Homo sapiens: one gene and its partners. The protein of the gene in region 1 interacts with the protein of each later gene in a biochemical or structural test. Each region holds a gene or a part of one and is shown in the gene's direction. Other genes may lie near its edges.

What was found.
Region 2: the proteins of GAS6 (region 1) and MERTK form a complex in vitro, tested with the Homo sapiens proteins (one study listed by BioGRID).
Region 3: the proteins of GAS6 (region 1) and TYRO3 form a complex in vitro, tested with the Homo sapiens proteins (2 studies listed by BioGRID).
Region 4: the proteins of GAS6 (region 1) and AXL form a complex in vitro, tested with the Homo sapiens proteins (2 studies listed by BioGRID and IntAct, with this or other methods).

Annotation. Positions count from the first base shown.
Region 1 is NC_000013.11:113,861,061-113,868,950, reverse strand, and holds the start of GAS6 (growth arrest-specific protein 6 precursor), read left to right. Parts: upstream 1-4,874; 5' UTR 4,875-5,030; coding exon 5,031-5,118; intron 5,119-5,209; coding exon 5,210-5,376; intron 5,377-7,890. UniProt on the Homo sapiens protein: Ligand for tyrosine-protein kinase receptors AXL, TYRO3 and MER whose signaling is implicated in cell growth and survival, cell adhesion and cell migration.
Region 2 is NC_000002.12:111,901,594-111,908,615, forward strand, and holds part of MERTK (tyrosine-protein kinase Mer precursor), read left to right. Parts: intron 1-7,022. UniProt on the Homo sapiens protein: Receptor tyrosine kinase that transduces signals from the extracellular matrix into the cytoplasm by binding to several ligands including LGALS3, TUB, TULP1 or GAS6.
Region 3 is NC_000015.10:41,569,192-41,576,213, forward strand, and holds part of TYRO3 (tyrosine-protein kinase receptor TYRO3 isoform 1 precursor), read left to right. Parts: intron 1-835; coding exon 836-965; intron 966-1,048; coding exon 1,049-1,149; intron 1,150-1,412; coding exon 1,413-1,508; intron 1,509-1,846; coding exon 1,847-1,927; intron 1,928-2,403; coding exon 2,404-2,496; intron 2,497-3,251; coding exon 3,252-3,373; intron 3,374-3,810; coding exon 3,811-3,920; intron 3,921-4,116; coding exon 4,117-4,276; intron 4,277-4,487; coding exon 4,488-4,624; intron 4,625-5,006; coding exon of another isoform or gene 5,007-5,040; exon of another isoform or gene 5,041-7,022. UniProt on the Homo sapiens protein: Receptor tyrosine kinase that transduces signals from the extracellular matrix into the cytoplasm by binding to several ligands including TULP1 or GAS6. Regulates many physiological processes including cell survival, migration and differentiation.
Region 4 is NC_000019.10:41,222,213-41,229,234, forward strand, and holds part of AXL (tyrosine-protein kinase receptor UFO isoform 1 precursor), read left to right. Parts: intron 1-4,542; exon of another isoform or gene 4,543-4,700; intron 4,701-7,022. UniProt on the Homo sapiens protein: Receptor tyrosine kinase that transduces signals from the extracellular matrix into the cytoplasm by binding growth factor GAS6 and which is thus regulating many physiological processes including cell survival, cell proliferation, migration and differentiation.

The DNA of each region.
Region 1 (7,890 bases):
AGTGTGGTATTAACTTTAAAAAGAGACAAACAAATAAATGGGACAGAACAGAGTCTACAAATAGATTTGCACATATATTATCAATTGGTTATTGACAAAGGTGCAAAGGCAAGTCAGTGGAGAAAGAATAGTCTTTTTAACAGTGCTGGGATGATTGCATTTCCCTAGGCACATACGTACAGATACACACTTTGTTTCATACTTCAGCATTTATAAAAACTCATTCAAAATGGATCACCATCTTAAATGTAAAACTGAAATCTACAGAACTTCTGTAATAAAATCTTTGTGACCTTGAGTTAGGCAAATGTGACACCAAAAGCAGAATCCATTAAAGAAAATAAGCTGCACTTCAAAATTAAGAATTCTGATCTTTGAAAGACACTTTAATTTCTTTTTATCTTGGAGACAGAGTCTTGCTCTATTGTGCAGACCAGGCTTAAACTCCTGGGCTCAAGAAATCCTCCTGCCTCAGCCTCTCAAGTAGCTGAAGCTACAGGCACCCACTACCATGCCTGGCTAAAGACACATTTAATAGAATGAAAAGACAAGCCGCAGACTGGAAATAAATATTTGCAAACCACACATCTGATAATGGACTTGCTTCTAGAATAGTTATAGAACTCTTAAAACTCAACAAACAGCTCAACAATTGGAAAACCAAACATCCCAAGTGTATTAGTCAATTTTCACGCTGCCGATAAAGACATACCTGAGACTGGGCAGTTTACAAAGGAAAGAGGTTTAACTGGACTCACAGTTCCACGTGGCTGGGGAAGCCTCACAATCATGGCAGAAGGTAAGGAGGAGCAAGTCACGTCTTACACAGATGGCAGAAAGCAAAGACAGAGAGCTTGTGCAGGGGAATTCCTCTTTTTAAAACCATCAGATCTTGTAAGACTTATTCACTATCATGACAACAGCATGGGAAAGACTTGCCCCCATGATTCAATTACCTCTCACCAGGTCCTTCCCATAACATGTGGGAAGTCAAGATGAGATTTCGGTGGGGACACAGCCAAACCATATCACCAAGTAAAGGAAAAGAAAGAAAGTAAAACTGAAACAGACATTTCACCAAAGAAGATATCTGGATGGCAATAAGTACAATAAAATTTGTTCAACATCACTAGTTATTTGAAAAATGCAAATTTAAACTACAATGAAATACCATTATATACATATTAGAGTGAGTAAAATTTTTTTTTTCAGTGGAGTGTAGGGTTTCTTTTTTTATTTTTATTTTTTTATTGATCATTCTTGGGTGTTTCTCGCAGAGGGGGATTTGGCAGGGTCACAGGACAATAGTGGAGGGAAGGTCAGCAGATAAACAAGTGAACAAAGGTCTCTGGTTTTCCTAGGCAGAGGACCCTGCGGCCTTCCGCAGTGTTTGTGTCCCTGGATACTTGAGATTAGGGAGTGGTGATGACTCTTAACAAGCATGCTGCCTTCAAGCATCTGTTTAACAAAGCACATCTTGCACCGCCCTTAATCCATTTAACCCTGAGTGGACACAGCACATGTTTCAGAGAGCACAGGGTTGGGGGTAAGGTCACAGATCAACAGGATCCCAAGGCAGAAGAATTTTTCTTAGTACAGAACAAAATGAAAAGTCTCCCATGTCTACCTCTTTCTACACAGACACGGCAACCATCCGATTTCTCAATCTTTTCCCCACCTTTCCCCCCTTTCTATTCCCCAAAACCGCCATTGTCATCATGGCCCGTTCTCAATGAGCTGTTGGGTACACCTCCCAGACGGGGTGGTGGTCGGGCAGAGGGCCTCCTCACTTCCCAGTAGGGGCGGCCGGGCAGAGGTGCCCCTCACCTCCCGGACGGGGCGGCTGGCCGGGCGGGGGGCTGACCCCCCCACCTCCCTCCCGGACGGGGCGGCTAAAAATTTTTAAAGTGACCACAGAAAGTATGGGTGGGGATGTGGAGCAACTGGGACCCTCATGCATTGATGGTGAAAATGAAAAACAGTATAACCACTTTGAAAAACAGTTTAAAAAGTTAAACAAATACCTACTATGGGATCCAGACACTCTGCTCCTAGATATTTCCCCAAGAGAAATGGAAGCACGTGTGCACACAATGTCCACACGATGGACACACACATGAATGCCTACAGCAGCTTTATTTGTGATAGTAAAAATTTAGAAGCAAGTATAATGTCCCTCAACAGGTGAATGATAAACAAATTGTGTTATATCCATACAGTGGAATACTACTGAGCAATAAAAAGGAATACACCTGCAACAAGATAGATGATTCTGAAAATAAATATGTTAAGTGAAAAAAACAGACAAAAAAGTGTACATACAGTATAATTCTTTTTATATAAAAGTCTAGAAAATACAAACAAATCTATAGTGATAGAAAGTTGGTCAGCGGTTTTTGCATAGAAACTGGGATGTGGGGTAGGGTGGGGACATTTAGGAGGGAGGAATTACCAAAGGGCATGAGAACACTTTTTTGGGTGATGGATATGTTCCCTAACTTGATTGTGATGATGGCTTCACAGGTGTACACAGCTTTCCACCTCATGGCCACAGACCGGTTAACCATCCATATAAAACATCCATTGCCCTGGGTCCAACCTCCTGCCCCCTGTGGAGGTGAACTGTCTACTTCACCATTGATATTTCAGGTTGTATGATATAGTGCCTGACAACTCTCCATTTTTGGAACACATCCAAATTGTTTCTTATTCATTTTCCATTTCTGCCTTCGAACGAATTTCCTGCACTGGTAACTAGGTGAAGAATTTTGGAGTTATCTGGGGTAATGGAGACATCCTCCATTGCACCGCATATTTGCTTTCTGTATTCCCCAGTTATAGAAATCAAAACGAGCAGTTGTATGTGAATGCATTGTATCAAACCAAGTCTCTAGATGATAGGAGGCATTGTCATTACTAGGATAGTAACTCAGTAGAAAGAGTGAATTGAGAATATGAGGAATGAGAGTGGGGTCCAGACTAAAAGGAGGCCAGGGGTCCTGAACTGCCCCATCCAACTGAGTTCATTCTGATACCTACTGATCTGAAGCAGCAGGTCCACGCCCAGGTGCAGATTGTCCCAGATGAACAGGCAGAGGCTAGAGATGCTCATTCCTAAAGGGATCAAATAATTCTGAGAATGGCAAGAACTCCATTAACTCTCTTCTCCAAAACTACAAAAATGTGCAGAAAATACGAACAATTTTTAGGAGCTTACACTCTTTGAAGTTTATCCATGGGCTGCTGGAACCCTTAGGAAATAATAGCTAGAAGTGCCTCAGACACTGCCTGGCACACAGCAGGTGCTCAATGAATTACACTGCCTGGCACATAGTAGGTGCTCAATGAATTGTCTGATGAAGTGATTAAGGAGCCTTGTAAATACTGATTAAAACATGTATCACCCCATCCAATTTTTCAAACCAGTGCTTCTCAAGAACAAGCAGGAAAATTAATGTAATATTGTTTTGAAGTAGCCGTGGTGGTTTCGGGGCAGAAGCCCAGGGGTACTCCTTACTCCGCCTGCTCCAGTAACTAGCTGACATGGAAGTGCCTCGTCATTCTGGTTCAGACACAGGTGCAGATAGATGACTTCTCTATCCCACTTTAATTCTCCTTGAAGATCATTCCCAGGGACATTCATTTGCTTAAATTAACATGCTCGGCCAGGCGCGGTGGCTCACACCTGTAATCCCAGCACTTTGGGAGGCCCAGGCGGGCGGATCACGAGGTCAGGAGATTGAGATCATCCTGGCTAACACGGTGAAACCCCGTCTCTACTAAAAATAAAAAAAATCAGCCGGGCGTGGTGGCGGGCGCCTGTGGTCCCAGCTACTCGGGAGGCTGAGGCAGGAGAATGGCGTGAACCCGGGAGGCGGAGCTTGCAGTGAGCAGAGATCACGCCACTGCACCCCAGCCTGGGCAACATAGCGAGACTCCGTCTGAAAACAAACAAACAACAACAACAAAAATTCATGCTCATAATCCCACTTTCAAACCAGTGACCTCAAAGATTTCTAGCAGCAATCCTATTCCATTCTTCCAATTACAGAAAGCAAAGAGAAACTGGATCTGGGGATCTAAGCGTTGAGCCTGCTGAGCAGAACGGCCATTCATTTGGGGTGAGGTGCTGACTCACTGCCCCTCTACATTGCATTTTGGGGTGTGGGGATTTCCAGAGCAGGATTCTCCAGAGAGGAGTATCCAAGCTCCCTCCTCCCGCAGCAGGGGGATGCTGGGCTAACTGCCTGGTTCGGTCCCCCGTGAGTGGTCTGCTGTGTTTTGGTTCTGTTTGTTTGTGTGTGTTTTGCCTATGACTTTGCGAAATATTCCAAGACAAGAGCCAGAAAGTCTTGGTCTCTGAAGACAAGCACAATGTTGCTTTCAGCTTAAATATCTACTGGGAAACCTCAAGATTTTTAATGTCATCATTATGAAAAACAGAGATTATAAAAGGAAACCGTCGCATTTCACTCGCTGGCCCCCAGTGGGATTGGATCTGACCTCAGTGTATCTTTTCTTTGGTAGGTTTTAAGTCTTGACAAAATGTGCCTAAGAATGAAGACTCCAAAAAGGATGCAGTAGATTCGGGGGGAGTGGGGGTTGGAAAGAGGCTTAAATCTTCACATGACACCTGGAATATGGTCAAAATGTACCTGCTCAAGTTGAACCAGGTATTGCGTCCTCCTTTTACCCCATCGCTAGTGAAGACAACCACCGCCTGGGGAGACGCTCCTTTTCCGAAACACTCGAGTCCCGCCGCGTCCCGGACGCTCCGCTTTCCCCGCGCCCGGATCCTCCCGGGAACCCGCGCCCCGCCCGCGCGCTGGTCCCGCCCCCGCCGCCTCCCCGCGCGCAGCCGCCCGAACACGCCCAGACCGAGCGCTTGAGGTGCCGCAGCCGCCGCCGCCGCCGCCGCCGCGATGTGACCTTCAGGGCCGCCAGGACGGGATGACCGGAGCCTCCGCCCCGCGGCGCCCGCGGCTCGCCTCGGCCTCCCGGGCGCTCTGACCGCGCGTCCCCGGCCCGCCATGGCCCCTTCGCTCTCGCCCGGGCCCGCCGCCCTGCGCCGCGCGCCGCAGCTGCTGCTGCTGCTGCTGGCCGCGGAGTGCGCGCTTGGTGAGTCCCGCGGGCCCGAGACCCCGTCCCCGGGCGGCGGGAGGAGGCTCCGGGCGCGGCTTGACGCGTCCCCCTCTCTCCCTCCGGGCAGCCGCGCTGTTGCCGGCGCGCGAGGCCACGCAGTTCCTGCGGCCCAGGCAGCGCCGCGCCTTTCAGGTCTTCGAGGAGGCCAAGCAGGGCCACCTGGAGAGGGAGTGCGTGGAGGAGCTGTGCAGCCGCGAGGAGGCGCGGGAGGTGTTCGAGAACGACCCCGAGACGGTGAGCAGCCGGCGGGCGGGATGCGGGGGAACCCCTGGCGCCCGCGCGCCTCCAACCGCTCCCGAGAGGCAGCGCTGCTGCCGCCCCCCAGCTCCGCGCGGCGAGGCCTGGCCTCAGGGTCCCAGGAGCCCCGGCCCGCCCCGCGTCCCCCACGCCCATCCCCCGGCGACCCCGGGATCCCCGCGCAGGCCGGTGAGACGCTGCGGGGCTGTCCGGGAAACGCTCGCTGTCAGACGCCTCCCCGCGGGGAAGCCGGGAGTCCGTTTCCAAAGTGCGAGAGAAACACAATGGTTAAAACCCAAACCGCTTCCCCGCGGCCCTCCCTCTGCTGGGCTGGAGGTGAGGAACCCCCGGGCCGCGCCTCGTCCTCCTGAGAGGGGTGGAGAGCAGTCCCCTCCCGAAAGAGGAATTGAAAGGGCCGAGGGCGGGAACTGCTTGCGGCAGCAGGTCCAAAAATAAGATTCCAGGAATCGAGCGGGGCCGCATGCGGGAGGGGAGGGCGGCTCCGCGGCCCCGTTCTGCCAGGTGCTCTCCTGGAGGCAGCGGGTGCTTTCAGGAGCCCGACGGTGCTGGCCCCGGCACCTCGGTTAGGAATGTCCTTGGAGAAGGCGGGGCGCCCGGGGCCGCCTCCCGCAGGAGCCGCCGTGTGAGGACGGCCTGGCCACTCTATCCTGCGGGCTCGGGAGCGGGTGACTTTGGAAAGTCCGAGAAGGTGTGGATTCCCGTTGACGTCCCTCCCGCCCTGAAGTCAGGGTGATTTCATAGCGAAGTTTTCCGTTCTGCTGGAATGTTCCTTTTAAAGAATTCTCCTGGGGTGGAATAAATGTCACCCGGGATGAAAGAGTGGTTCTGGATGAACCATGGAGGCCTGTTTCCGCTTACATTTCTAGTGGTTGACTTGACCCCTCTTAGATCTGCCTTTCTGAAAGCTCTGAGGCTGTCAGATGGCCACTGTGCACTTGTGGACATAGCTCATCCCTGCAGAGATGACGCACCTGGGGCTGTTGCCCGGGGGCTGCCCACAGCCCCACAGGCCCGTGCCCTCCTTCAGCTCAGCCTAGCTTGGTCGCTCTCCCCGGCCTCTCTGTTTTCCTGTTTCTTTAATGATGAATCCTGGCCTGTGCTGCTGGCTGAGGCAGGTGGGCCTGTGTGCCCTGGTCGCTCGGAGTCGCCGCCCAGCTGTGGGGTTGGTCGTGTGGCTGGTGCAGTGTCCTCCAACAGCGTCCTCACCCGGAACATTCTGCGTGCACAGGGACTGTGGCATGGGGCGTGCTGGTGATGGGAGTTGAGGGCAGCAGGGTCACCCCCACCCCACAGTACCCGCTCCGCGCAGCCCTGCAAGGCCTGGCCGCAGCCCCTCCTCGCTGTCCTCCAGGACCTGCAGGGCCCATGTCAATCAGACTGGACGCTGCCTGGATGTACTGTGCTGTTCTTCCCAAGTCAGTCCCCTACCTGGTTTTCCAATTTTAATTTAATAACTTTATTTACAAAGGTGTGAAATGAAGATAAGAAAATGAAAACAGCACTCAGGACCCCATCACTTTAATACAACTGCGGTTGCGTCACATGGTTTCTGTGCTGGCATGTTCATCTCCTCACCCTCCTGCATGTGGCTGAGTGGCTTTGGTGCCCGGGAGGCATCCCTCCCATCCTCTCACAGCCTGGCCCCAGCAGCCTCTGTCGGCTTCTTTTCAGCGTCATCTCAGTTCCCAGCGTTCTGCCCTCCTTCCCAGCCCCCATGCCAAATGATAACAACCCGCTTTCCCTCTGGTTTTTGGATCTGGCCATTAGCTTGCTGTCTGTTTCTGTTTCTGTTTCCGGTTCCTGCCGGCAGGTGGATGCTGGGGACAGCCTGGTTGGGGCAGGGGCAGGGGCAGGGTCCAGAGGCTGGCTTGAGTCCCAGCCGGCTCCAGCACACCAGGCCCACCCCTCCCAGGACCCTAGTCTCCACTGCATCCTCTGCCACACTCTTGGGAGACCCCAGGCCCGAGGGGACTGTCCAAGCACAACTTCCTGCTAATGCATGAAAATCATCCATGAACTTCTCCCTGTCAAAGGCCAGGGGCTCCTTGTCTTTGAAATGTTGCTCACTTTACATTTTGTGCAGTGCGGCTGATTGAGGAAAAGGGCTGTGGCCTGAGCTCAAGAGGTGACCAGGACCTGGCCATGGTGACTGTCAGAGCATCCTTGGGTCCCTGGCCTCCCCAGGCCCAGGATCCTGATGTGTGGTCCTCCACGGGTGGTTGTAGGGAAGGTGGTCCCAGCCCCCTGCCATTTTAGGATGTGGGAAGTGCCTGGCCGCCGTTAGTTAACACGCACCTACCCAGCCCTGGCTGTTTCCCCTGGGCAGGCTCCTACGAGGGAGGGAAGGGACAGCTGGAGCCAGCTCTCCAGTGTGCTCACCTTCATGTCCACCTGCTAAACTGCTAACCTGCCCGAAGTGTGTCCCACTGCCCCTTGCTGGGGCATCTTCCTGGTTGCGCCTTCTTCCCGGAAGCACCCGCTGTGCAGCCC
Region 2 (7,022 bases), on another chromosome or scaffold:
CACCCAGGCTAGAGTGCAGTGGCACCATCACGGCTCACTGCAACCTCAACCTTCCGGGCTCAAGTGATCCTCCCACCTCAGCCTCCCAAGTAGCTATGACCACAGGCACATACCACCATGCCTGGCTAATTTTTTATTTTTTGTAGAGACAGGATCTCACTATGTTGCCCAGGCTGGTCTTGAACTCCTGGGCTCAAGCGATCTTCCCACCTTAGCCTCTCAGAGTGTGGGGATTATAGGCATGAGCCACCATGCACAGCTGAATACAATTTTTAAAAAATTAACAATAATTATGTTTTTTTGTTTTTGAGATAGAGTTTCACTCTTGCTGTCCAGGCTAGAGTGCAATGGCACAATCTCGGCTCACCGCAACTTCCCGCCTCCCGGGTTCAAGCAGTTCTCCTGCCTCAGCCTCCTGAGTAGCTGGGATTACAGGCATGCACCACCACGCCTGGCTAATTTTGTATTTTTGGTAGAGACAGGGTTTCTCCGTGTTGGTTAGGTTGGTCTCGAACTCCCAACCTCAGGTGATCTGCCTGCCTTGGCCTCCCAAAGTGCTGGGATTACAGGCATGAGCCACCACACCCAGCCAATAATTATATTTTTAAATCTTAATTTTTGAAATAATTTCCAGATAATTGTAGAAGGGCCAGTGAGTTACTAGTCAGCATTGGTCAAGAAGAGGTTCAATCTTTTTATGCCTGTGAATTGGGAACATGCTGCTGGGTAGAAAAACTGAGCTGGGACCTTGAACACACATGTGAAACAGTCGCTTTCCATATAATAGCCAGAATGAGATTTTGGAAACGAATCTGATTGTATTTTCCATTTGAAAATCTTCCAGTGGCTTCCTGTTCCCTACTAGAATTTGCAGAGACTCACAGCGAACCTCTTTGACCCATTTCCATTCACTTCCCTCTTGTTCCTACCACTCCAGCCACCTGTGTCTTCTTTCTAGGGCCTGAGCAGCCTTTGCAGTGACTCTTCCCTCTGGCTGGAACCTTTTTCCCAAGATCTCGGCATGCTGGCTTCTTCTCATCCTTTGGGTTTCAGTTCAGAGGTTCTCCTTGAGAAGCCTTCCCCAATAACCACCCCCTGCCAAAGTATCATATGCATACACCCCACTATCCCTTAAATTTAATTTCCTGATAATGCTTCTCACAACCTGATCAGTTCCTTCCTTCCTTCCTTCCTTCCTCCCTCCCTCCCTCCCTCTATTTCTTTATTGACAGAGTCTTGCAATGGCAAATTCTCTGCTCACTGCAACCTCCGCCTCCCAGGTTCAAGCAATTCTCCTGCCTCAGCCTTCCCAGTAGCTGGGATTACAGGCACCTGCCACCACAGCTGGCTAATTTTTGTATTTTTAGTAGAGACAGGGTTTCACCATGTTGGCCAGGCTGGTCTCGAACTCCTGACCTCAGGTGATCCGCCTACCTCAGCCTCCCAAAGTGCAGAGATTACAGGCGTGAGCTATGGCACCCAGCCTTACCTCTTTGTTTACTCCTTTTCCTCCACTGTCCCCCCACCACAAGGTAAGCTCCTGGTGGCAGGGCTGCTGTCTTTTTCACTGCTAACACAGCATGGAGCTCATACGGGTGCTCAGTGAGTATCAGAGCACAGCATGAAGGAACCAAGCCCCTGCATGTCTTACCAGGTGCTCTTCACCCTTATCTTTTCCTACTGGCTTTTCCAGAAACAGAATTGCTGGAGCTCCCATGCCCTCACATTCGGGGCTTGGTTAATAGAAAACAATCTTTTATTTTGCTGTGATGCCAATGTGATTTCATTGCTGGAGGAGCTAGTCAATTAAAACCAGACAGATTTTTGGGCTGTATTAACCCCAAACATATTTTACATTGTCCTAACTATTCCAACTAGAAAAAAAAATGTCAGAAGGTAATTTTTCATGTTAAACACAGTTCTAACAACTCCTTGCTCAGGGGCAGGTAGCCCTGGGTGCCTTGACTTTGGCCCTTGCCGTTAGTTTAATCTTAACCCAAAGCACATGGCTCTGAATTGGTATGTTTCTCAGCAGGAGATTAATTATTATAAAAACTGAAAGGGGTCTCACACTGTGTGAGGCACACTATGCCTCTGGGGACTGGAATGAAAGTGTTAACCGGGACTGGCTTCTGGGGCTTTGGGGGTGGTGATTAACTTTCAGGACCTCTGTTCCTTTTTGGGTACAGTGGGAGGCTCTTTTCATAGAATTGTTAGGAGGACGTAATGAGCTAATGGCAGGTGATATGTGCTTAAAATATATTTGCCATTATTACCAATGGTTCTCCTCCATTCTTCTGAACTCAAGTATGGGGGAAATGTTTTTCCTAGACAAAAGGTGTTGGGAGGAGGGTTCTTTTCTTATTGAAGTGTATCCTGAATGGTCCACCCTCCATTGTTCAGAATGCTTTGGTGAAGGGGCCCTCCGGTGTCGCCCTAGAGTGCCCAAGTCCTTTGCTGCAGCTCTTTAGGTTTTTGTTTCCTAGTAGTTTGAGCAAAACCCACCCAGGACCAAGCAGTTCTCCAGAGAAGCAGGGCCCGCCCTGACTGCCATTCCCCTCCTACTCCTGCCCCCATACCTTCCCTTATGGAGTTCAAACTTGACATAGTACAGGAATAGCTTCTTGTCATGTGCCTCTCAGGAAGGTATAAAAATGAAGTCCAGTTCCTGTTCAACTTTTCCCACATAACTCTTTTCCAAACTGGGTGTGGTTTAAATTTTTTTATTTTTATTTTTTGTGTTTGTTTTGTTTTAGGGTTTTTGAGTGTGAACATCCAGAAAATTCTTTTTTTTTTTTTTGAGATGGAATCTTGCTCTGTCGCCCAGGCTGGAGTGCATGTGGCGCGATCTCGGCTCACTGCAACCTCCGCCTCCTGGCTTCAAGCAATTCTCTGCCTCAGCCTCCCAAGTAGCTGGGATTACAGGTGCCCTCCACCAGACCTGGCTAATTTTTGTATTTTAAGTAGAGACGGGGTTTCACCGTGTTGGGCAGGCTGGTCTTGAACTCCTGACCTCGCGATCCACCCACCTCGGCCTCTCAAAGTGCTGGGATTACAGGAGTGAACCACCTCACCCAGCTCAGAAAATTCTTTTCCTTTTTACCACATCGAGCTAGGTTTTCCCAATGAGGTCAGTTGGCTGCAACATAGAGAAAATGAGGCTTTGGTTCTTAGAGTAGATTCCGTGTACAGGCGTGAGTATGTGTCCGCAGGTGGTCTTGTAGGAAATGCAAAGGGCGCCAGGTGCACTCCTGGCTTCTGGTACTTCCTGCTTAATGGCATGGGTGAGCCAACCCTCAGGTGCCCGGGAGGGAGCCCTGATTACTCTCCCTCTGGCACTCTGGGCATTGGCTAACCCGTGACCGGAGTTAAACCAGTTCCCTCTCTTTTCATTCTATGTCTCCCACTCCTGCCTCCAGCCGAAGTGCTAAAAATGCAGCCTGGCAGGGGCAGAGAATTCCATTAGGATCAGCAGGCCCCTTTTGGAGAACAAGGATACTAAGAATACCTGCCATCCTGGCACTTCCTCCCTCCTAGGCCTTACTTTTCTCTGTCTGAACCATGGCTGTTGAACTGGGTGATTCTTAGCCACAGGAAGGGAGGGCCTAGATCTTCCCTAGTTTTGTGAGACTCTGCAGCTGGACAGCCATCCCTTCATGGGAGCTGCCACATTTTCACTCTCGGGGCCTCTGACAGGCACTAGGATCTAGGGACATGGCCGGCATGTGAAACCCTGGGCTGCTATGGCCAGGTCACCTCCTCAGGTCCTGGTGTTTCAGAGTGATAAAGAAGAAAGGGTGATTATGTCTCAAACATTTCATTGAGAAACCTACACTGTTCTTTTTTTTTTTTTTTTTTTTTTTGACATGGAGGCTCACTCTGTCACCCAGGCTGGAGTGCAGTGGCGCGATCTCAGCTTACTGCAGCCTCCTGGGTTCAAGCGATTGAACCCAGGGTTCAACCTCCTGGGTTCAAGCGGTTCTCCTGTCTCAGCCTCCCGAGTAGCTGGGATTACAGGCACCCATTACCACACCCAGCTAATTTTTGTATTTTTTAGTAGAGACAACGTTTCACAATGTTGGCCTGGCTGGTCTCGAACTCCTGGCCTCAGGTGATTGGCCCACCTCAGCCTCCCAAAGTGCTGGGATTATAGGCGTGAGCCACCGTGCCCAGCCAGAAACCTACACTCAATTCTAAAGCATTTTATTTCATCCTTCTTGGCTAGTTCTTCAATTATCAGTGCTTCTTTCACTCAATGGTAAATGGATTTTCCATGAGTCTTGGAGGTGGCAGGCAGGGAGAAGGGGCAGAAGGAAAGAGAAAGAGAGAACAGATGTTGGCTTTATGTTTGGAATAAAATTACACCAAAAGCTAAGAACATTTATATTTGTGCTTAGAGAAACCCCATTTCATTTCAGAAGCTCAATGCCTGGATTTTTTTGCCAGCACATTTTACACTTGTATGTTTCTCCTTGTACTCTGTGCCTCCATGTATTTCTGTTGGTCCCTTGAAAACAAGATCCAATCATCACAGGGTTAGTGCTCTGCCCTAGGTCACTCCAGTAGGGGTCCATCCTCCGGATTTAGATCTCAGGTTGGCACTTATGCAAATGCTTTCTGACAGGTCCCCTTTTTTGTGTAATCTGCTTTTTCTTTGAGGATCTAGATACCTCAGCATTCAGGGACAGTAAACATCTTAGAACTTGCCTTAGCTGTGGTCTTGCCTCTCATTAGATACACAAAGAAAAGCCTTGTTTATTTTGGAGAAGGAATTGTTTTGTTATTTTAAGCCTTAGGGCCTTGTGGTTAGAGCTACCAATAGTAGATTGGCTTCATTATGGTTTTGAAAATGATCACTTTCACAAGTAAGAACAGGCTGTCTTAGTGGAGAATATTAGAACAGAGACTCAAACTTAACTGAAAGTTGTTTTCTGTCACTGTGCCGCTTAGGGAATTCTCAGTGCGGTGATAAATATTCATGGACTTCCCAAGTGTTGTGTGTGCCTGGAGGCCAGTTTTTCACTTGTTCCAATTAACGGCAGGCTGCCTCCACACAGGAAGTGAAACCAGCCTTTAAGCCTTTTTACAATTCTGGCACATGATTTGAAGATTTGGTGATGAAAGCAATGTTCTTTGAAAGTTTTGGAGCAAATAAAAAAAAGAAGCTTTTTAGATTCACTCTTAGTTTAAAAAATAACCACTTGGGGAGTTGAAAGATGTAAGTTCTCATCCTAGCTTTGAGAGGAACCTGCAGGGACAGCTGGGGTATAGTGTGTCCTCCTTCTAAAACTCCACATCCTCACTTGTCAAATGGGAAAGCAGATGGATGATTCTAGGCCCCTTTGGGGCAGAACACTGATTCCATCTAAAGGGGAGAGGTGGGAAGGGATACTTTCTCCCATGCCGTTTGGGACACAGAGCCTCAGCCTGAGTTTGACCCTCAGCCCTGTGCGTGACTCTCGGTGTGAACTTTCTTAGACATCAGCCCAGAAACGGAGATGGAGGCTGTGTGAAGAGTTTCATTAAAAATGAGTGATGCAGCCAGGTGCGGTGGCTCACGCCTGTAATCCCAGCACTTTGGGAGGTCAGGGTGGGTGGATCACCTGAGGTCAGGAGTTTGAGACCAGCCTGACCAACATGGTAAAACCCTGTCTCTACTAAATACAAAAAATTAGCCAGGCGTGGTGGCGCATGCCTGTAATCCCAGCAACTTGGGAGGCTGAGGCAGAAGAATCACTTGAACCCAGGAGGCGGAGGTTGCAGTGAGCCGAGATTGTGCCACTGCACTCCAGCCTGGGCAATAACAGTAAAACTCCGTATCAAAAAAAAGAGTGATGCTAGTGGGTTCTTTGCTGTTGACAGTTGCCATTCCCTGCCACCTGGGCTGTCTGTTCCTCCAGTAAGTACCCCCTCCAACTCTGGGGCAATAGAATAGTCTGGAAACATGGAGGTATATTTCTGAGAATATTGGATCTCCCCAAACACATATGACCTCTTCCTGCTAAATCTTCTGAGAGACAGAGGGATGGACTAAGCTTTTTCCGGGGTGGATGGAGTGGGGCATATCCCCCCTGAGGGGGAACAGCAGAATCTTCAGGATCAGGGAGAATGATGTCATTTTCAAAAGTTTATTCATTCAATATTATTATGTCATTTTATAATTGGAAATTTAAAAAATATTTTGTGATATAAACTGTAGAATGCAACGCTCTTAAATATTCTGGCTGGGAAGATAAGGATAAAGACAATGATTCATGACAGGGGTTCTCAAGAAGAGGTATGCTTCAGAACTACCTAGGAAGCATTTTCGCAAGGTAGAAGCTCAGGTTCCCAGGACCCGTGGACTCAATCTTTGGGGCTGTGGCCCTGCCTTGTGTATGTCCAAGCTATTCTGTGCCACCTCTTTCGTTACACTCCACTGATGCAGTATATCTGATGTCTGATTCTTGGGCAGTGGTGGGGAGCCTCTCTCTATTACCCCATCCCAGGAGGGGTATGTATCAGAACCTGGCCATTGAGGGTAGGAGTAAGCTAATTATGCTTATCCAAGGGAGGTGGCAATTCCTAGACAAAGTGAGAATGTTGAGCTGGATGATTCATTAAGCCAAGTGCCCTTAGGATTTTAGGACCTGTTGGTGGAAAGAGATACAGCTAATCAGGTGGGCCAACCAGTAAATAGTAAGGCCTTTCCCTTTTTACCATTATATTTTTTCCTCTCAGCTACTCTTTATACTCACATCTTATTATAAAATATTTAGGATACACAAAAGGATTTAACAGGTAATAAAACTCGCCTGTGTACTCACTACTTGACGTAAGAAGTCAGACATTAACACTACAGTGGAAGTCCCCGGTCGTTCCTCTCTCCAGTGTCATCCCCTCACTCCCACCCAGAGAAAACCATTATCCCACATTGGGTGTTTCAATTCCCATGCATGTCTTTATCCTTTGATCATGATTGACATGATTATGTTGGTAACACTCTATAGTGTTGTTTTGCACCATGTCAGTTACATTTGATT
Region 3 (7,022 bases), on another chromosome or scaffold:
TCATGCCTGTAATCCCAACATTTTGGGAGGTTGAGGGATCGCTTGAGGCCGGCAGTTTGAGACCAGCTCTGGCAACATAGCAAGACTCTGTCTCTACAAAAAAATTAAAAAAAAAAAAAAAAAACAATTAGCCTGGTGTAGTGACATATGCCTGTTAAGCCCAGCTGCTCCAGAGGCTGAGGCAGGAGGATTGCTTGAGCCCAGGTGTTTGAGGCTGCAGTGAGCTATGATTGCACCACTGCACTCCAGCCTGGGCAACAGAGTGAGTCTGTTGTCTCTAAAGAAACAAACAAATAAGGCCAGGAGTGGTGGTTCACACCTATAATCCCACAACTTTGGGAGGCTGAGGTGGAAGGATTGCTTGAGTCTAGGAGTTTGAGACCACCTTGGGCAGCAAAGTGAGACTTTACCAAAAAAATTTAAAAATTAGTCAGGTGTGATGTTGCACACCTGTAGTCCCAGCTACTTGGGAGGCTGAAGTGGAAGGATTGCTTGAGCCCAGGAGGTTGAGGCTGCAGTGAGCTGCAACTGTGCCCCTGCACTCTGGCCTGGGCAACAGAACAAGACTGTGTCTCAAACAAACTATATCTCATTCTCCTCTCTCTGCCCCAGAACTGGCATAGAAATCCATGGTCACCCTCTAGGTCACAACAGCCAGGGCCTGTCTCTGACCAGGTAGGAAGGACTCTTAGGCATTCCTCTGGAGCCCCTTTCCCTCAGGACCCTTATTGACCTAGAGGAGCCCCTTGAACCAGCTGGATGGCCATCCTGGGAAAGTTCTGAAGGGACCTCATGGTGTCATCCTAGCTCATGCCACTGCACCTCCCTCCCACAGGCCAGCAGGGCCCTCCTCACAGCCGCACATCCTGGGTACCTGTGGTCCTTGGTGTGCTAACGGCCCTGGTGACGGCTGCTGCCCTGGCCCTCATCCTGCTTCGAAAGAGACGGAAAGAGACGCGGTTTGGGTAAGGGGATGGGGATGTGGAGGGAGAGGCAGGTAATGATGAAAGACCTTGGAGCTGACCCCAAATCCTGGGTTTTCCTTTAGGCAAGCCTTTGACAGTGTCATGGCCCGGGGAGAGCCAGCCGTTCACTTCCGGGCAGCCCGGTCCTTCAATCGAGAAAGGCCCGAGCGCATCGAGGCCACATGTGAGTGGTGGGTGATCGTGGGAAGGACAAATGGGCTGTCTTGTGCCCCATCTGCATTCTTTTACCAAATTATTAATTTGACTGATATGTCTGAACATCAGTGAGCCCCAGGCACACAAATCTGCCTGTGTGGAGTTCACCACCCCAGCCGTGGGAGACCTAAGCTCATCTCTATGCTCTGAGGGCAGAGTCTGGGGTATAAGAGGCTGGGTTTTGGCTCAGGAATCAGAGATCCCTCTTTCCCACAAACCCTTTCCCCACAGTGGACAGCTTGGGCATCAGCGATGAACTAAAGGAAAAACTGGAGGATGTGCTCATCCCAGAGCAGCAGTTCACCCTGGGCCGGATGTTGGGCAAAGGTATGTGAGGCTGTGTGGGGATGGGCATGGCTGGTTTGCTGTAGCTGGAAGTGTTTGGTTGCCCCTGTCACTTTGAGGCTGTGGGTTTGGGTCGGTTGCCGTAAACAAGATATGCTTGTAGACTCCTGAGTGTGGGATGTTTGTGGGGAATGGTGGCTGGAGACAGGGAGGGCTGAGGAGCTGCTCCCAGCATGCTCTTGCTTTGGCTACTGGCAAGGGTGCCTTCTCCACTGGCCCCAGAGTCTGCTGACTGTGTTCCCATGGAGGGTCACTTGGGAGGAAGGTTGGCAGGGAGCAGAGAGCCAAGGAGACTCTCCCTTACTTGGATTGGTTCCTAGGAGAGTTTGGTTCAGTGCGGGAGGCCCAGCTGAAGCAAGAGGATGGCTCCTTTGTGAAAGTGGCTGTGAAGATGCTGAAAGGTGAGTGGGGGATAGCTGTAGCCTGAGGGCATCACTTGGAAGGGTAAGAGGGGCGACTGACCCTGAAGCAGGCTCTGCTTTGCCCCTAGATTTTCCAAGAAGAGCTGGGCAGCACTAACTGGGATGCTCTTTACCACACGAATAATTCACAAGCATAAACCCAAACATACATATTCATGCCCAGCCATTGCTCTCTGCCATCGGCAGTGACTGTCCTCTGAGTCCCCTCTTGGGTGATTACAGCTGTGGTTGGTTGACCTGCTGGGCTGCCCAAACCAAAGGGAAGGGAAGGCATTAGCAAGTGGAGAAGTTGCTAAGTATCACCACTCCTTGGGGGTTTCTCCTGCTCATGGCTGGGCTGTTTCCTGGGCTCCCTGGGAAGCCTAGGACATCTGAAGGACAAGACCTAGGAGGCCTGGGTCAAAACTAGGGGCACATCTTGTTTTATTTCCTCCTTCCCCATCCCCTTCTCCTAGCTGACATCATTGCCTCAAGCGACATTGAAGAGTTCCTCAGGGAAGCAGCTTGCATGAAGGAGTTTGACCATCCACACGTGGCCAAACTTGTTGGTGAGCCCATTTTTGGGGGAGGCAGATAGAGAATAGGGCTAAAAATATGCTCTACCAATATGAGATGGCAGCCTATAGGAGAGACTTTTGGACTCATCTGGTAAATAAATAGATGGCAAAATAGCAAGGAGGGTCCTGGCAGAAATCTGAGGTGAGGAGTGCCAAAGGTCTGCACATGAAGACTGTGTGGCTGGATGTGGTGGCTCATGCCTATAACCTCAGCACTTTGGGAGGCTGAGGTGGGAGAATTGCTTGAGGCCAGGGGTTTGAGACTAGCCTGGGCAGTATAGCAACAGCCCACCTCTATTTAAAAAAAAAAAACAAAACAAAAAACATACACACACACACACGTATACAAAAATTAGCTAGGTGTGGTGGTGTGCACCTTTGTCCAGCTACCCGGGAGGCTGAGGTGGGAGGATCATTTGAGCCCAGAACATTGAGGCTGCAGTGAGCTGTGATTGCGCCACTGCACTCCAGCCTAGATGACAGAGCAAGATACTGTTTCAGAAAAAACAAAGACTGCTTGTGTGGACAGAGAAGGAAAGGAAGGGGACAGAAGATGCTCCAGGGATATGGGAGCAGCCAGAGTCCCTCCTGGGTAGTCCCCAGACCAGTGTGGAGCCTGTGAAAAAATAAAAAATAAATAGCAGAGCCAGAGCTAGAGATGGGACCCAGCAGGTGGGGACTTATGCAGACACCTGAACTGCCCCTTGACCCTTCTATGCTCAGCTCCTGACTCTCCCTTGTCCCAGGGGTAAGCCTCCGGAGCAGGGCTAAAGGCCGTCTCCCCATCCCCATGGTCATCTTGCCCTTCATGAAGCATGGGGACCTGCATGCCTTCCTGCTCGCCTCCCGGATTGGGGAGAACCCCTTTGTGAGTACCTGGTGTGGGGGTGGCCAGGAGGAAACGGGTGGGAACACAGGGCCTGGAAAGGCATAGAGACCCTGGCAGAGAGGGGCTTGCTGGGTAGGGCTGATGGAGCTGGGTGGGAGTAGGAGGGGTCTGAGTTTGAATCCTTTTAATCTAGCAGGCTTTCTTTTCTCTCACAAAACCCTGCTGAGAAATATAGGCTGGGCAAGGGCCCTTTCTAGAGGGAGGGACTTGTGGAGCCCCAGGGTGGGGGAGTCTCGTCTTCCAGGCTCCCTCTTAGGCTAGCCGAAGCTTCCTTGCCTTGGGAAGGCCCTCCATCCCCTTCCTTCCTTCCAGTGATTCTGGGGACAGCCTTCAGGCTTTCTGGCCAGGGACCCCCATCCATCCTGCCCCAGCTGGGTGGGCAGGTTAAGCCTGAGCTTGGCCTGTCTGTCCACTAGAACCTACCCCTCCAGACCCTGATCCGGTTCATGGTGGACATTGCCTGCGGCATGGAGTACCTGAGCTCTCGGAACTTCATCCACCGAGACCTGGCTGCTCGGAATTGCATGTACGAATTCTGGAGGACTCGAGGGTGGGAGACAGCAGCAGGTGCCAAGAGGAGCTAGCTGATGGTCGGCTCCTGCCTGGGACAGTATCTGCTATGCATGGGGGTAGCTTGGGAGCAAAGATGCAAAGATGTCCTGGCTCTTGTGGGCCTGTGAGCATGGCAGAAGGCTGACTCTCTCCCTCAATGCCCCTTGTAGGCTGGCAGAGGACATGACAGTGTGTGTGGCTGACTTCGGACTCTCCCGGAAGATCTACAGTGGGGACTACTATCGTCAAGGCTGTGCCTCCAAACTGCCTGTCAAGTGGCTGGCCCTGGAGAGCCTGGCCGACAACCTGTATACTGTGCAGAGTGACGTGGTGAGCAGGGTGGCCCGTGAAGCTTGGTGGGGACGAGTGTGAGAGCAGACCTTTAGGATCCTTAAGGGCCTAGCCAAGTCTGCTCTCTGGGGTTTGGTTGCCCCCTGATGAGGCCCTGAGCCCCAGGTTGTGCTTGTCTCAGAGCCATGGCTCTCTGCCTGGCTCAGGACACCTAGTGACAGCTTCTCCCCCAACCTCGATTCTGTCCCAGTGGGCGTTCGGGGTGACCATGTGGGAGATCATGACACGTGGGCAGACGCCATATGCTGGCATCGAAAACGCTGAGATTTACAACTACCTCATTGGCGGGAACCGCCTGAAACAGCCTCCGGAGTGTATGGAGGACGTGTGAGTATCCTGGGAAGGGGGCTCTGGAAGGAAAGGGGAATCTGGAGTTTTGGCTGATGGCTGCCACCACAGTTGCCTCAACTGGACCTTTGTTTTTTGATAGAAACATCCTTGTAGTTGGAAGGCTGCACTCCACCTCATACTCACTGTTCATCTACCACCTCCCTGTTTTCTTTCTTTCCCCCTTTCCCATCCCAGATTTCTTGCTTTAGCCTTTGTCTATCAGTCTCTTTTCTCCAGTTTGTAAGGAGAACCAGGAACCCCAAGAGCAGAAGGCACAGTGCTGAGTAACAGTGTGGGAGGTTTCCCTGCCATCTTCCCACCCGTCATTCCTTTTCTTTTTTTAATTTGTATTTATTTTATTTTATTTGTTCTACCCTAGTGAATACAACCTTTGTCCTGGAGACCCCAGCTAGTCTAAGAAAACTTCCTAGGCTGAGCTCTCTTGGGAATCTAAGATAAAGAACTGAGATCCTGGGAAGAAGGGAACTGCCTCCTCTTCTTTCTGCAAGCCCAAAGCCCTCGGGACTGGGCAGGCAATGATACCACCCACTTTGCTACAGTGATAACAGACCCTGTGACAAGATAATGGGAAGTGTCACTGACATTAGCTGGGCATTTAGGCATTCTTTCAGGTAATCTTCCTCTGACCTTATGAGGAAAAGACTATTATTTATCCCCACTTTGTAGATGAGAAAATAGGATTAGAGAGATTAAGTAACATGGCCAACGTCACAGAGCTAGTAAGTGAATAAGTTGGAATTTGAACCTAGATCCCTGTAGTTTTAGAATATATACTCTTAACTCTTTATGACAACAACTGTGATTTGTCTGTTCTAGTCTTACACTCCCACTCCATCCAAGCCAAGGGCTCCCTAGGCCTTCAGACAACCTTTTGTGAGTATTTTTTGTTTTGTTTTTTGAGACAGGGTCTCGCTTTGTCACCCAGGCTGGAGTGCAGTGGCGTGATCTCTGCTTACTGCAGCCTCAACCTCCTGGGCTCAAGTGATCCTCCCTCCCCAGCCTTCCAAGTAGCTGGGACTACAGGCACGTGCCACCACACTCGGCTAATTTTTGTATTTTTGTAGAGACAGGGCTCCGCCATATTTGTCAAGCTGGTCTTGCGCTCCTGGGCTCAAGGGATCCATCTGCCTTGGCCTCCCAAAATGCTGGGATTACAGGTGTGAGCCACCACGCCCAGCCCAGAGGACCTTTCATGAGCCCCAGGGGGAGTGGGAGCCACTGTGACCAGAGAAAGAATCTGCTCCATTTCTTGCTCTGGGATTGGACTTCCAGAGGGCCGAGGTCATGGACAGGCACAGGAAGGCTCAGCCTGATGGTGGGGTCCTTCCCTTGGACAGTGGGTTTGAAGTGCCCTGAGCCTGGGCTGTGGGTAACTCACCTACACCTGAGAGGGAAATCTTGAGTAGACAAGCCAGGCCCTGGCCCTCCTGTTCATTCAGCAGAGCTCAGGGCATGGCAAGGGGCAGGAAGCTCACATCTCCCTGTGGCTGCAGCCTGCTTCAGTTCTAATCTGGCGCTGTAGAAGCTCTGAAGGGCAGTGGGGACCAGACCCCAGCGCAGCCTCCTCCCCAGCTGGAGCTGGTGCTGTCAATGGAGAGTGGGCAGGCACTGGCCTCACCCAGGCAGCCTGGTGGACAGGCGCCAGTTGGCTCCTAGCACAGCCTTGAGGACGTGTCCCAGTCTGGCCATGTACCCACGGCCCCAGACCATTCCCATTCCCACGACCTGTTCAGTGTCTGGCATGATTACTGCCATTACTGGTGGCCCCTGCTGGGGGTGTGCTGGTGTGTGAGGCAGTGCTTGGGGCTCTTGTCATGGGCATAGGCAAGAGAGTCAGGCATTTGCATTCATTGGACTTGGTCTCAGCGTCTTTCCATTAGGTTTTTGGTTTGTTATTTTTCCACCTGAGCCTGAGGCATTCCTTGGGCATCCTGAGTGATAGGCTTCAGGGAATTTATAAGGTTCCTGAAATTGTATGTAAAAAAGCATTCCTGGCAGGGGACGGTGGCTCACGCCCGTAATCCCAGCGCTTTGGGAGGCGGATCTCCTGAGGTCGGGAGTTCCAGACCAGCCTGACCAACATAGAGAAACCCCGCCTCTATTAAAAATACAAAATTAGCTGGGCGTGGTGGCGCATGCCTGTAATGCCAGCTACTTGGGAAGCTGAGGCAGGAGAATCACTTGAACCCGGGAGGCAGAGGTTCTGGTGACCCGAGATCACACCATTGCACTCCAGCCTGGGCAACAAGAGCAAAACTCCATCTCAAAAAAAAAAAAAAAAAAAAATTAATTCCTGTTGGCAGGAGAGCTGGAAGCTTTTTCCAGATACTCAAAAGTTATATATGAATAGTGAGGACTTTTTCTTTTTTTTGAA
Region 4 (7,022 bases), on another chromosome or scaffold:
CTCTGTCTCTACCTATCTTATTTCTCTCCGTATGCCTTTTTCTGTCTCTTTCTGTCTCTTGGTGTGTGTGTCTTTCTGTCTCTCTTTGTATGTGTCTCTCTCTCTGTCTCTCTGCTTCTCTCTCCCTCCATTCACCCCGGCCTCTCTCTGAATAGAATTCTTTGTCCTGGGTTTCCTCTGAGCTGTTCCATGGCTCGAGTGCGTGTGGGCCTGGTGCCCCTTTGTCAGCCCTTGACCCAAGCAGGGCACCGGAATCAACCGTGCCCTCCTCTCCTCCGCCTCCCTCCACAACCGGCCCACCTCCTGCCCTAACAAGCCTGCTGGCCTCAGTCAAAGGGAGGATGTCCAGCCCGGTCCCCACTGGGGAGATGGAACCCAAAGAAGAGAGAGCAGGAAGAAAGTAGGAGACAGAGGCTGGGCGTGGTGGCTCACGCCTGTAATCCCAGCACTTTGGGAGGCTGAGGCGGGCGGATCACGAGGTCAGGAGATCAAGACCATCCTGGCTAACACGGTGAAACCCCATCTCTACTAAAAATACAAAAAATTAGCCGGGCGTGGTGGCGGGCGCCTGTAGTCCCAGCTACTCGGGAGGCTGAGGCAGGAGAATGGCAGGAACCCGAGAGGCGGAGCTTGCAGTGAGCCGAGATTGCGCCACTGCACTCCAGCCTGGGCGACAGGGCGAGACTCCATCTCAAAAGAAAAAAAAAAAAAAAGAAAGTGGGAGACAGAGAGAGATAGAATGACATACACTGGAAGGGACAGGCCACAGTGACCCAAGATGAACATAGACAGGACAGAGAGGCCGGGCATGGTGGCTCACGCCTGTAATCCCAGCACTTTGGGAGGCTGAGGCAGGTGGATCACTTGAGGCTGGGAGTTCGAGACCAGCCTGGCCAACATGACAAAACTCCATCTTTACCAAAAATACAAAAATTAGCCAGGCGTGGTGACGGGCATCTGTAGTCCCAGCTACTTGGGAGGCTGAGGCAGGAGAATCGCTTGAACCCGGGAGATGGAGGTTGCAGTGAGCCGAGATCACACCACTGCACTCCAGCCTGGGTGACAGAGCAAGACTCTGTCTCAAAACGAAAAACAAAACAAAATGAAAGACAGGACAGGGAAGTTGGAGTGACAGAAACCCTCTCCTTCTTGGGGACCATTCCCTTCTGCACCATGCAGACGAGGAAGGACCGAGCTCAGGGTTATGCAGTGGTCAGGGGCATCACTGGGGGACCCTGGATTCAGGGGGTTCTCCCTACTGAAGGAGGAAAGACAGAGGAGCAGATGGCAGAGGCTCTGTAAAGGAAGGAGGCTGCAGCCTGGAGGGCATCAGCTTCCCGCACTCCCAACCTGCTGCCTCTCTCTGCTGGAATGAGGAGGGGCCTTCTGACTGGGGGTCTCCAGGGTGGAGGGAGGAGCTCACATTCTCAGCATTCCTGGGACCCTGAGTTGCAAGGAAGACCTGGTGAGCATGCTGACCCCAGAGGAGTGACTCAGGCCCATGGCTCGAGTGGCTGAGTAGGGACCAGGGTTGGGGATCGGGCATGAGTCAGCCTGGCAGGTCCCATGAGAAGGGGAGGGGAGGGAGAGAAATGGGGGCTGCACAGGTGTGAGGATCTGTGCATGTCTGTGTGGTGGTGGTGGGGTGTCTGGATATCTGTGTGTTCTGGATCTGAGTGTTAGTGTATCCGTCAGCACAACCTCTGTGTGAGGGTGTGCCTTGGCGAGGGTGGACTTCTGTGGATGTCCCATGTGTGGTGTGTGTGTGTGTGTGTGTGACTAAATATATTTCCTTCAGCTTGGATTCTGTCCCAATATGTGTTTGGATCTTTATAGCATGTCTCTCTCTCTACGTTTCTTAGGGGTTGCCCGTGTGTGGGTGTCTGTGTGTGTGCGCATGATGGAGTGTACCAGTGTCAGCCTGTGTCTGTCCCTCTTTTTTGTGTTTGTGTGTTCACAGCTGGGACTCACTGTATGAAAGTAAAGTGTGCCTGGAGGGTAGTGGGTTTGGGGCTATGGTGCACACCTCTCTGTATGGAGGTGGTAGTGTCAGCCCACAGGTGTGCAGCTATGGGTGTGAGAGTGTCCTAGTGAGAGCTTGTGTTCCCTTGCAGAATCAGAACGTGTCCATGGATAACTTGTGTTTCTTACCACCTTTTTTCCCCCTTATTTTTTTTCAAGATAAGCTCCCGCTGTGTAACCCAGGCTGGAGTGCAGTACTGTGATCATGGCTCACTGTAGCCTCCACCTCCTGGGCTCAAGCAATCCTCCTACCTCAGCACCCTCCCACCCCTCAAGCAGCTGGGACTATAGGCATGTGCCACCATACCCAGATAGTTTTTGAATTTTTTGGTAGAGACAGAGTCTCGCCATGTTGCCCAGGCTGCTCTTGAACTCCTGGCCTCAAGTGATCCTCCCGCCTCGGCCTCCCAAAGTGTTGGGATTTACAGGCGTGAGCCACTGCTCTCAACCCTCAGCCTCTTACCAGCTTTCTGTGTGTGTCCATAGATGTCTCTGTGGCGTGTGTGTATATGTCACAGGGTAAGCATGTTGGTGTATGACTGTAGTCACAGACCTGTGTGTGTGTGTGTGTGTGTAACAGCACCCTCTGCTTCTCTCTGGTCTCCCTGTGTGTGCACTGGCCCCTGCTGCCTCTGAGTACATGACCTAAGGATGCTTACCAGTCAGCGTATAGATGTGTCTCTGTGTCAATCTATGTGTCCATGGCAGTGTCTCCATCCTTGTGTGTCTGCATCAGGCCTGCGCATCTACGAAACTGTGTTTTTTTGTTTTTTGGGGTTTTTGTTTTGAGACGGAGTCTCACTCTGTCACCCAAGCTGGAGTGCAGTGGCACGATCTTGGCTTACTGTAACTTCCGCCTCCGGGGTTCAAGGGATTCTCCTGCCTCAGCCTCCTGAGGAGCTGCGATTACAGGCACGCCTGGCTTATTTTTGTATTTTTAGTAAAGACAGGGTTTCATGACAGGTTTGTCATGTTGGCCAGGCTGGTCTCAAACTCCTGACCTCAAGTGATCCACCGGCCTCGGCCTCCCAAAGTACTGGGATTACAGGCGTGAGCCACCGCACCCAGCGCAAATGTGTTTTTGTATCAGTCTGTGTCTGGGTGAACATGAAACCTGGGCGCATCCAGCTCCATCTTATGGCGTAGATGGAGGCTTGGCTGTGAGGTGTACGCGTCGGTGTGTCTGTGTCTGAGCAGGTCAAAATGACCCTTCATTGTGTCCTGGTGTGTATCTATCTGTCCACCTCAACTCCATGTACGCTGTTACGTGGTGTGTGTCTCTGAATATACAGGGACATTTAAGTTTCTGTGTGTGTTGGCATCAGCCTAGATGTACATTGCGTCGCTAGGTGTTTGTAATCAATGTGTACATGTGTGACTGTGTGTTTATGTGTTTGTCCCACGTTGGCTTGTATGCATACATGTCTCTTTATGAATGTACATCAGTGTCAGCCCGCGTGTATATGTGTGAGTCACGGTGTTTTTGTGTCACTGTGTTTGTGACATCAGCCCTTGCATATCTGTGTGCCGTTAACTTACCAAGCGCTGCGTCTTCTGTGCTAATAACAGCCCCTGTGTGTTTAAGTGTGATTCATTGTGAGTGTGTGTGTGGGGGGGTTTGCTGTGTGAAGGAATTTCGTCCGTTTGTGTGCGTCTGTCCCTCTATCTGACTCAGGGCGTGCCCCTCCTCCTTCCATCCCTCTCATTCTCTGGAAAAGCTGGGGCGGAGAGCAGGGGTTGTGGGGGGATGGTCAGGACATCTGGAAAGCACATCTGGAATCGGCCTGCTCCTGTCGTCTTGCGGTAAAGCAAGAACCTTCTGGAGGGGAAGGGGTCCCAGTTCCTCCTGTCCCCTTCACTCAAGGTGCGGCCGTTGGGGCCTGGGAAGGGGGATCCCGGCTCTGGCTCCGCGCCCCCGAAGCCGGCCGGAAGCGCTGGGGTGGGGAGGTGCCCCCGGTGACTCACGCGGGGGCAGGAATGCTGCGGTCGGAACGGGACCCGGCTCCAGAACCCACCTCCAGCCCCAGGGCTTCTCCGGCCGGCGGCGCCAGCTCCCGCGCGCTGACCCTGGCGGGGCCCCACGTGCCAGGTGGCTGGACCCGACCCAGGCTCCCCGCCCCCACTCGGGCCGCCCGCCCGGGACTGTACTGTTTCTCCTCCGGGCGGCGCGGGGGCTGCGGGCGCGGGGCCTTCAGGGCGCGGAGGCTGCGGGAGCGGGCACCTGACCTTGTCTGGGAACGGCCACCTAGGAAGCCGCGACTGAGGAGCTCCCCTACCCTCCCCTTTCCGGCCTCTGCAGACTTTGCACCATTCCACTCCCTCCGCTGACGGAGAAAAGGAAACTTTGTGTCTGCGGATGGAGAGCCTCCCTTGCCAACGCGGTGGGAACAGAGGCGTACACGCACGGAGCAAACACGAGAGACACGTACACAGATACTCAACACATGCACGTACACACCATCCACAGATACACGCAGGGTCACAAACATACCAGCTCAGAAACACAAACACAGATGCACAAGCACACGCGTAAACAACACGCAGAACTGCAGTCGCACTTACAAGACTTGGTCCCAGGGCCGGGCACCGAGTGGCTCTGCCTGCGATCCAGCACTTTGGGAGGCCGAGGCGGGAGGATCGCTTGGGGCCAGAAGTTTGAGAGCAGCCTGGGCAACGTGGTGAGACTCTCCTCTTCTCTACAAAAAAAAATTGAAAAGTTAGCCAAGTGTGGTGGCCGCCTGTAGTCCCAGCTGCTTGGGAGGATGAGACAGGAGGATCGCTTGAGCCCTGGAGGTCAAGGCAGCAGTGAGCCGTGATTGTGCCACTGTACTGCAGCCTGGGAGATAGAGCAAGAACCTGTCTCAAAAAACAAAACGAAAAACTTGGTCCTTCTTACATCCTAGCGCAGACATTGTGTGTGTGTGCTGGGGGAGGGGGGTGTCTATGTTTCTACGTGTATCTGTGTTGGGGGATTCCCCTTATTCACCAGGATACGTTCTCTAAGAGCCCCCACAAAAGCCTGAAACAATGAATAATACTAAACCCTGTATATACTACACATAACTTTCTTTTTCCTTCACAATTTCGCAGATAGATTGTTTTCTTACTATAGATCTTAGCAACCTCAGTACATATATATATGATTATCTTTTTCTAAGTGGAGAATTTTCACCTTTTCACTTAAAAGGAAGCACTTTAAGGCTTCTCTTTGGCCTATCCGAATTGCAGCCATCACTATTTTGCACCCTGGGGCCTTTTTTTTTTTTTTTTAGACAGAGTCTCTCTCTGTCGCCCAGGCTGGAGTGCAGTGTGGCGACCTTGGCTCACTGCAACCTCCGCAGCCCGGGTTCTAGCAGTTATCGTGCCTCAGCCTCCCGAGTAGCTGGGATTACAGGCACGCGCCACCATGCCCGGCTGATTTTTTTGTATTTTTAGTAGAGACGGGGGTTTCACTGTGTTGCCCAGGCTTGTCTTAAACTCCTAATCTCAAGTGATCCACCCGCCTCGGCCTCCCAAAGTGCTGGGATTACAGATGTGAGCCATAGCACCCGGCCAGGCGATTATTTAGATAAATAAGAGTTTCTTGAACTCTGCACTTGAGCACTGCAGTACCAGGACAGTTGATCTGATAGCTAAGTGACTTACAGACAGGTATCAGATACAGCACTGAGATGCTGGACAAAGGGGGGATTCACGTTCTAGGCCAACCAGAGTGGGATGGCATGAGGTTTCATCACAGTACTCAGAACGGCATGCAATTTAAAACTTAGGAGTTATATCTGGAATTTTCCATTGAAATATTTTTAGACCAAGTGTAACTGAAACCTCAAAAAGTGAAACCTCGGATAAAGGGGGACTGATGTACGTTGTATAGCGGTTTGTGTTGGGTATCTCTGTGTGCTTGCAGGTCTGTGTCTCTCGTGTTTGTCTCTGTAATTGTACGTGCTTCTGTGTGTGCACGCTGGTCATACCAACACCAACACCACCACGTTAGGGAGGGAAGGCAATCCACCTTCACTCGAAAACAGTTACTCAAGGCCGGGCACGGTGGCTCACACCTGTGATCCCAGCACTTTGGGAGGCTGAGATGGGCAGATCACTTGAGGTCAGGAGTTCGAGACCAGCCTGGCCAACATGGTGAAACCCTATCTCTACTAAAAATTACAAAAATTAGCCGGGCATGGTGGCGCGCTCCTGTAATCCCAGCTACTCAGAAGGCTGAGGCAGGAGAATGGCTTGAACCCAGGAGGCAGAGGTTGCAGTGAGCCAAGATCATGCCACTGCACTTTAGCCTGGGCAACAGAGCAAGACTCTCAAAAAACAAAAGAAAAAAACAGTCAAGACACAATACGTGAACTCCCCTATGGAATTACACATGCTCATATTTCTACACCTATGCCCAGGAATGCTCATAAGTACATAGCTGAACACAATTTCACTCACTCATTCAACAAGCATTTATGGCACACCTATTGTGTGCCAGGCCATCCTGACACAGCAGGGGACGAAACAGACACAACCCCTGCCCTCCTAGAGCTGACATTCTAGTGGGAGAAACTGACAATGGGCAAGGTACTTGGGTAACAGGTAAAGTATGTTGGGTGATGAGAAGAACCAAAGAGGAAAAGTAAAGCGGGAAGGGGATAGATTTGGAGAGGAAGCTCCAATTAGCTCCAATTTTATTGTATTTTTTCTTTCTTTCTTTGTCTTTTCTTTTCTTTCTTTTTTTTTTGAGACAGAGTTTCACTCTTGTTGCCCAGGCTGGAGTGCAATGGCGTGATCTCAGCTCACTGCAGCCTCTGCCTCCCGGGTTCAAGCTATTCTCCTGCCTCAGCCTCCTGAGTAGCTGGGATTAAAGGGGCCTGCCACTATGCCCAGCTAATTTTTTGTATTTTTAGTAGAGACGAGGTTTCACTATGTTGGCCAGGCTGGTCTCGAACTTCGGACCTCAGGTGATCCACCCACCTCGGCCTCCTAAGGCTGGGATTACGGGCATGAAC